Homo sapiens: one gene and its partner. The protein of the gene in region 2 interacts with the protein of the main gene of each other region in a pairwise test. Each region holds a gene or a part of one and is shown on either strand. Other genes may lie near its edges.

Region 1 (3,819 bases), on a different chromosome or scaffold from region 2:
TTAAAGCTGTTTCCTTTCCAAAGGATCACTGATGGTTTTCTATGGTTTTGTGTTTCAAACAGCGGACAATAGTTCGGAAACGGGAAGAGAAAAAAATACCTGCTGTATCTCTTTCCCAGACATCAGGCGGTGGAAATGCACCAAGGGAGCAGGCTTTTGAAACTCATTGGGGGGAAGATGGGTAAGAAGCGGAGAAAGGATCCTTGGGGTCTGACTTGGACCCATTGTCCTCTCCTTCAAGTGCTCCTGGGTTGAGAGTAGGAAGGGCATAGAGATGGGGCCCTTTGAGTTGCAACTGGGGTTTACTTCTGTGCCAAAGAAAGGAAAGAGTGGTGAAAACGATTGACATGAACAAGCAGCAGCTTGTAGTGTTCGCCCTTGTATTCTGAGGTGATGGAGAATGTTGCTACTTAGCTGGGGTCTCTTACCAAGATAGTAAGAAAACGGCATGTTAGTTTCGTTCTCCATGTGCCAGTGCTTCATTGTTGTCTGCTCTTATTTCTATTTCAGTCTTGTGCTTTTCCTTACGCAGGTGAATGACTCTGATTCTTTTTGTTTCCGACCATGTTCGCAGCACTTTGTATAAATAGCAAATATAACATCAGCTTCCAGTGAGTTTCACGTGAAAAAAAAATCTTTCACTTCCTTCCTTGGGAAATGCTCGTTTACATTTAGTGAATGGTCCTGGTAGTTTTGACAAGGAAATATATTACGAACTAATGGAGAACCTGCTTTGGAGATCTGTGCCACATGTGTTCCATTAAGCCCACTTCTCCTGCCGCATTCTCAACCGAAGAAGGCTGGCCTCCGGAATCATGGCCTTACTCATTGGTAAAGAATTCTGATATAAGTATACTTATTTAAAGATGTAAATAGAAGGTAACTTAGCATGTTTCAGAATTTAAAACTTGCCTCATATGAATTTATTTTGATGTGAAAGTTGCTGATCAATTTGGAAAACATGAGTGGCTTTGCTTGTTACTAGTTTTTTATTGCTAGTTACAGGTATGTCTAAGCTCATATAAGCTCCATGGTTCCTTCAAAGGTTTGTTGTTCATGGTTCAGAAGCCCTGGACCTTGAATCCAGCCGGCATTCGTCCCCCATGTCCCTGGCCTCCAACCTTGCTCTGCCCCTTCACCCTCTTGGAGATGCTTTTCTGTCGGGTGTCCTCACCTGTGAGGCAAGGAATGAGAGCAGCTACTTCACCCCGTTGAAGTGCGGCTGCTAAAATGAAATAGTGCATTGGTGTGAAAGCACTCTCAGACGTGTACGTGGCTACTTGTATGTATAAGTGAAGTGCTGCTGAGACGTTAGTGATCAGGTCAATTTTTGGCAGTTGGGACGAGGGGAGGCTTGCTTTTGTTTGTATAGTTGAGAGTGGCTTGCTAAGGTGCAGAAGGTTTCCTGAGCTTGGCTCACACTTAGGTTGCTGGCACTTCTTTCTTTGCTTCTTGTCCCATTGTGTGGCTTGGAGAAGCGTGGGACTTTTCATTAAGTTTTAATATTAATAAAATGCAAATTTATTAGAATTTGTGCTCCTCGTGACATATCCATTATCCCACTTTAGCAAGCAAATATATCTTTTTTTTTTTTTTGAGACTGAGTCTCACTCTGTCACCCAGGCTGGAGTGCAGTGGTGCGATCTCAGCTCATTGCAAGCTCTGCCTCCCAGGTTCACACCATTCTCTTGCCTCAGCCTCCCAGGTGGCTGGGACTACAGGCGCCTGCCACCACACCCAGCTAATTTTTTTTTTTTTTTGGTATTTTTAGTTGAGACGGGGTTTCACCGTGTTAGCCAGGATGGTCTCGATCTCCTGACCTTGTGATCCTCCCGCCTCAGCCCCCCAAAGTGCTGGGATTACAGGCATGAGCCACCGCTCCTGGCCACAAGCAAATATATCTTTAAGCAAATAATAAGCTAAGCTGTGATGGTGGCTTTTAGGAGAGGAGTAGGAAGTGGGTCTCCTTTGCATCACAGAACTTCTCGGCCACTGTCTGCCTTGGAGCTTCCCGGGAAGGAAGGCTGCCTGTCCGCTGCTCTCTGCTTTCAGGTTCCTCAGTGCTTTGGGAGGCACTTCACTGTGCCCAGGACATCCTCTGACACCAGTCTTTGGAGAGACCTCTGCTCAGTCGTTGCTTCCATTACCCGTCAGAAAAGAAGGCCAGGTGGTGGCAGTTGCCCCGCAACAGTCTTTAGCTCACCTTCCAGAAAGATGCTCAGAGGAGAATCCTCTTACATTCTGGAGAAATCTGCATCTGGAGTGGTGAGCATCTGTCAGGGAGGAAACGATCAATACTTCATGTTTCAATTTTTCACTTGGAAATGATGTAACTTCTATTATGCCTAAGGAATACTTAGCTCAATCACTGGCAGTTCCTTTGGTTGATTACTTACTGCCCTGGCCAGTTTCAATCTCAGTGGGCCTGAGACTCTTACAGTGAATTTGGAAGAAAGGACTTGTGGAGAAAAGGAAAGTCTGCTTGTTTGGCTTTTCTGCATGCAAGTGTGTTTTCTTTCTCTGAAGAAGACACTCTTATTGACTTCAATGAAAAATGCTTTTTTTTCTAGTTCAGTTTCAAATTTAAATCTTCTTGCATTGATAAAGCGATGGTAGCTGGGATTTAGTGCCTGTTTGCCAGGCATCTTGCATGTCTGTAATTTTGCTTTTAAATGAGTGCAGAACCTGAAGTAGATTGTTTAAGTCACATGCTCAACCTAAACTCAAGGTAAGCTGCAGACCAGAAATCCCAAAACAGACATTCCTGCAGCTCTAATACACCACCCACGTGACCCTGGGACGCACTGGAGATTTCGGCTTAGAGCCGCAGAAACCATCTGAAAGACATAAGTCAGGAGACAGAGTCCTGATACCTTTCCCTATTTGGCCAGTTCATGATCCAGCTAGCCCTGGGCAAACTAGTCCATCTTTTGGATAAAATAAACACCTGCCTCAGAATCGCTTGAACCCGGGAGGCGGAGGTTGCAGTGAGCCAAGATTGCGCCATTGCACTCCAGCCTGGGCAACAAGGGTGAGACTTAGTCTCTAAATAAATAAATAAATATAAAAATAAACACCTGCCTTAAGTCACAAGGTGTTTTACAGGCACCTGGTGTTTCTGCCATGAAAAATGCATGCAGCTTCAAGATTACAGGACTGCAGGAGGAGGCTGCACAGGCTGGCGGGGTGGGGAGCCTACCTGTGGGGTGAGTAGAAGTCCGGGAATGCTGGTGCTCTGCTGGGGCAGATGGGATGAGAGAACACTGGGGGTGGGGACAGAGAGCCTCTGCTTATTTTGGTCCCCCTCTCACCCCGAAGAACTTCAGTTCCATCAAGGATGGGGAAATGCACCATCTCCAGAATAGGGTAATGTAGTCTGAAGTGACAGTCGTTTGTGTGTAGGAATCGGTAAACGACTGTGCACAATTTACTCTTTATATTTTGTATAATCTGTGGACTGTTTGTAGTTTCTAGATGTTTCAAAAAGATGTCTCATAAGAGATTGTACCTGTAGTCCTAGCTACTCAGGAGGCTGAGGTGGGAGGATCACCTGAGGCTGCTGGTTGGAGGCTGCAGTGAGCTGTGGACATTGCACTCCAGCCTGGGTGACACAACAAGACCCTGTTTCAAAAACAAAACAAAACCAAAAAAGATAAAGTAGGTAAGGCAAAATTTGAACATTGGTTTGAAGGCTGAGCTGCTTTTCAAATACCTGTATACTTTTGGTATTAAAACTAGTTTCTGTGGTGTCTGTTGTTGTGAAGTTGTCTAATGAGGTAGACTTTTCGATTTTCATTTTTGTATCTTATTGTGGCTTAT
Region 2 (3,819 bases):
TGACAGGTTCCTCCTTAAGCCTCATTAATATTTTGCATTTTGAAGTAACTCCATCACTAATCTTAAACAAGGAGAGATTGCTCCTGAAAAACAGAAGCCACTACTTTGCCACCTACTTTCTAGTAAAGATTTTTCATATTTTTGTCTCTTCTTTTTTTTTTAAATAATTTCAACTTTTATTTTATTGGGGTACATTTGCAGGTTATTTTCTAAGCTTGCAAATACCAACATTAGAAGGAAATTATGTATTAAAGCACTTTTATTAGTTGTATTATTGGAAATTTGTTAATTGTTAAAACATCTCTTTAAAGGGAATAAAAACGTGTTATTAAAACAGCTTGTACAGATTAAAAGTAGAGATGGCACAAGGAAGAAGAATTATGTGAGGTAGATAAGGGTTCCCTGGATGGTGACTGCTGACCTCCTGTTCCTCAGATAGCTTTGTCCCGACTGATGGTCATTAGTGAATAGATCTGTCTGGCATGGTGTATGCTGGTCTGCCTGCTTGAAAAGAATCTGCAGACTCCAGAGACTCAGGACCAGGAAAAGGCAGATGCCCACTCCCCTGTATCTTATGTATCTTATGGACAGGCAGGCTCTCTGAACTGTCCAGGTGGCCACTCCCATCACTTGCCAGAGGAAAAGCATGAAAGGTAAAGTTAAGTAATGACCTAAGAGTCCAAAGAAGAGGGTAGGTCACATGGAGCTGGGGTAAAGGCAAACAAACCTCATACAAGAGATCTGATTAGAGCTTGAAAGAGAGTTTGAGTTGGCCAAGATCTGAGGATGAAACGCTGGGAATTTGGTAGAAGGTCTCTACTACAATTCAGGGACCTCATTCTGGAAGCATGAGTGTGTTCATGAAAACAGGGAGGGGACTTGAGCCTTCAACGACATACGGCAGGGTGGGTTAGGCAGAAGGCAGGGAGTCTTGAGGCCTCCACAGCATGTGGACAGGTGGCTGAGGAAGGACCCAGAGTGACTTGCTGGAGCCTTAGTCACCAAACGCTCTTGCAGCTTAGTGGGAAAGGTGTTCATTGTAAAATACGGTATTTACACAAAATGCACAAAAATACGTATGTACAGTTTAATAAGTTACTGTAAGGAAAACATCCATGTCACCCCCAACTGAGTCCAAGTTGGTTGCTTTAGTTTCATCATCACAGTGACACCTTAGAATAGTCCTGAGGGTATGTGCTTAGTTCACACTTTACTGATGAGGAAATTGTTGCCGCTCCGAGAGTTTAAAAGTATTTGCTGATGGTGCCATGACTTTTAAACGATGGCCTGCTGACTCTAGAGGCTGGTCCTGCATAACCAGTTAATGGCATGTGACTGGGGAAGTGAGGGTACAGTGGAAAGAGACAAGGATGCCTCAGCGATGCAGCTCATTTGAAGCAGGAAGCAGTGACAGGTGTTTGCTTATTTTCTCTGAGCTTCATTTTCAACCTTTATGGAATGAAAATTTTACTTTTAGATCGATAAAATTTTATTTCTGTATACTTTCTAGTTTTGCAGCATTTCCAGTTTCCAGGAGCCTCATGAATGGCTTTTTGGTTTAGTTAACTTTGTGGTCATGTAAGCCCTGCCTTTTGCTCAGTTTATGACCTTTGTTAAGGAGAAAAGTAGAACTGTTAATAATTAACGCAGCAGACATTGCCTCACTCCCACTTAAGTGTGTTTTGTTTTCTTTTTTCTAGAAAACACTTTCCTGGATAAAAAAGAAAACATTCCAGATGCATGATCCAGCTGTGTGTTTTCAATCCTTGGGAGGGTGCCATCCACATTTTAACAGTACCTGTGCCTGAGAATTTAATTTTTAAAAGACTTTGATGTGTTTTTGTATGAAGTACTTTTAACGTATGTATTTCATTGCTGTGTCACACTCTGTGTTTTGTGAGGTGAATGTCTTCCTTTTCTTTCTCCCTAACCACTAATGTTAGAATTGATTTCCAAGAATCGGCATGTATACTTAATACTGAATTTCTTTGATTTAACTGACTTAACAACTGACTAACCATTGATGAGCACTCCTGATTTTTATCTAGAACATTCAGATTTACCATAATGTTCCTTAGTGGTAGAGGTGTGTGCCTAGTGATGTAGAAAGATACACTGACTTGGTGCAAGGCCATCTGCTTACCACATCACACCACTTGGAGATCTTTGCTTCCTTGCTTTTATGTTTGTACACAACACCTAAAACCAGTTTTGCTGCTATAATTCTATACTGTTGATTCGTCTGCGATTTTATCTGTTAACCAAATAAAACATAATAGAATTTCCTAATGAGATATATCTTTATACTTAAACAGCTTTTTTAGAGGTGAGTTTTAAAGAAGTCTCTTAATTCTGATGCTAGGTTGTTTTTAAAACCACTATGCAAAGAACTCACCACAAGCCACCTTTTGTAGTGTTCTCCACTAATACTGGTTATCCTGTGCTACAGAGAAAATCAAAGCAGTCATAAGCTCCAGTTTTCGTATTGCAAATAAGACTCTTACCTACAAAATGAGATTCAGTGAACTAATTTGGTTTTTACTCAACCAAATTAAAAATTTTTTTAAGGAAAATTAGCAGTTGGTCTATTCAGAATCAAACCTTTTTATATTTTATACTGCACTTTAGTGTATTTTCTGTCACTGTAGGTATAGAAGATCTGCCTCCCCTGTGGAAATTGGGGTCTGTTGGTGGGCGTGCCCCTGAAGCCTGGCTTGGGTTGAAAAGTGTTCCCGCCCTAAGGCCTTGGTGCCCTGAACCTCTGATGCCTACCGGGTTCTCCTGATTTGAGTTTCCTTTAAATACTCCCTTTTTGAGTAATTTTCTGATGGGAGGAAAGTAGCAGTCATCATCTTTTTGTGTGCAGGCTGTCTCATTTATTTTTAGCCATTGTCGTTTCATTCATTTTGTGTAATATAAACCGTGTGTCATGTCAAAGTGAAAGACATTTCAAATCTGTAGCATAGGCTAGTGGGCAGGTCCGCACAGTCGAAGCCACACCTGGTCTGTTTTCTGTGCACTGTAGCCTTAGTGTCACCTTTCTTCTTGTGTCTCCTTATGGTACACTCCAGCGGTTGCCTTTTTTATCATTTCTACTGAAGTTGGGAAATTCAACCCCAGAAATTGACAGATGAAAGGAGACAATGGTTGTGTAGGGAGATGGAGAAAATGCTTAATCTGAGGATGAGACAGGGTTTTTTCATTTTTGTGGGGGCTAGAAAAAACATAAAATGAGGCAGTTAAATAATAATAGTTAATGAAGGTGTGCTACAGAAAATAATCTGGTGTTCTTGCTAACTTTGCCCTTCACTGTTGCTTAATTGTGAACAGCCAAAAGCTATATGTTATGGCTTATTGTGTGAAGGTAACTAAGAAGTGGTGTTCCATGACTTCAGAGTACATCCATGCGGAGTCCATTATTTGAGTTTGACATTTAATAACTTTGCTGGAAAATCTGTAAAAAAGAAAAACAAGTTTGCTAGTGACTAAGCCCCGCATATGTGAGTGAAAGTACTTCAGGCACGCTGCCTCCTGGTAACAGCTATGCAGGGAGGGAGGACCCACACTGCTACACTTCTGATCCCCTTTGGTTTTACTACCCAAATCTAAATAGATACTTTTGATAATAGATAACTGCTCTTTTACTAAGACATAGTCTCTACCTATAGAAATGTATTTTGAAAACACTTATTTTACACAGCAATTTTGTATCCATTTAAACTAACCTTTTATCAATAAAGCACTATTGTTTAGATATTAAATGAGTATTTCTCTTGGTTATTTGCAAGGGAAAGTTGTGAGGTTTTCTGGGAAAATTCA

Evidence for each region.
Region 1: the proteins of SEPTIN2 (region 2) and CRAMP1 interact in a two-hybrid assay, tested with the Homo sapiens proteins (one large-scale study listed by IntAct).

Annotation. Positions count from the first base shown.
Region 1 is NC_000016.10:1,615,237-1,619,055, forward strand, and holds part of CRAMP1 (protein cramped-like), read left to right. Parts: intron 1-3,819.
Region 2 is NC_000002.12:241,350,267-241,354,085, forward strand, and holds the end of SEPTIN2 (septin-2), read left to right. Parts: intron 1-1,676; exon of another isoform or gene 1,677-1,700; 3' UTR 1,701-3,761; downstream 3,762-3,819.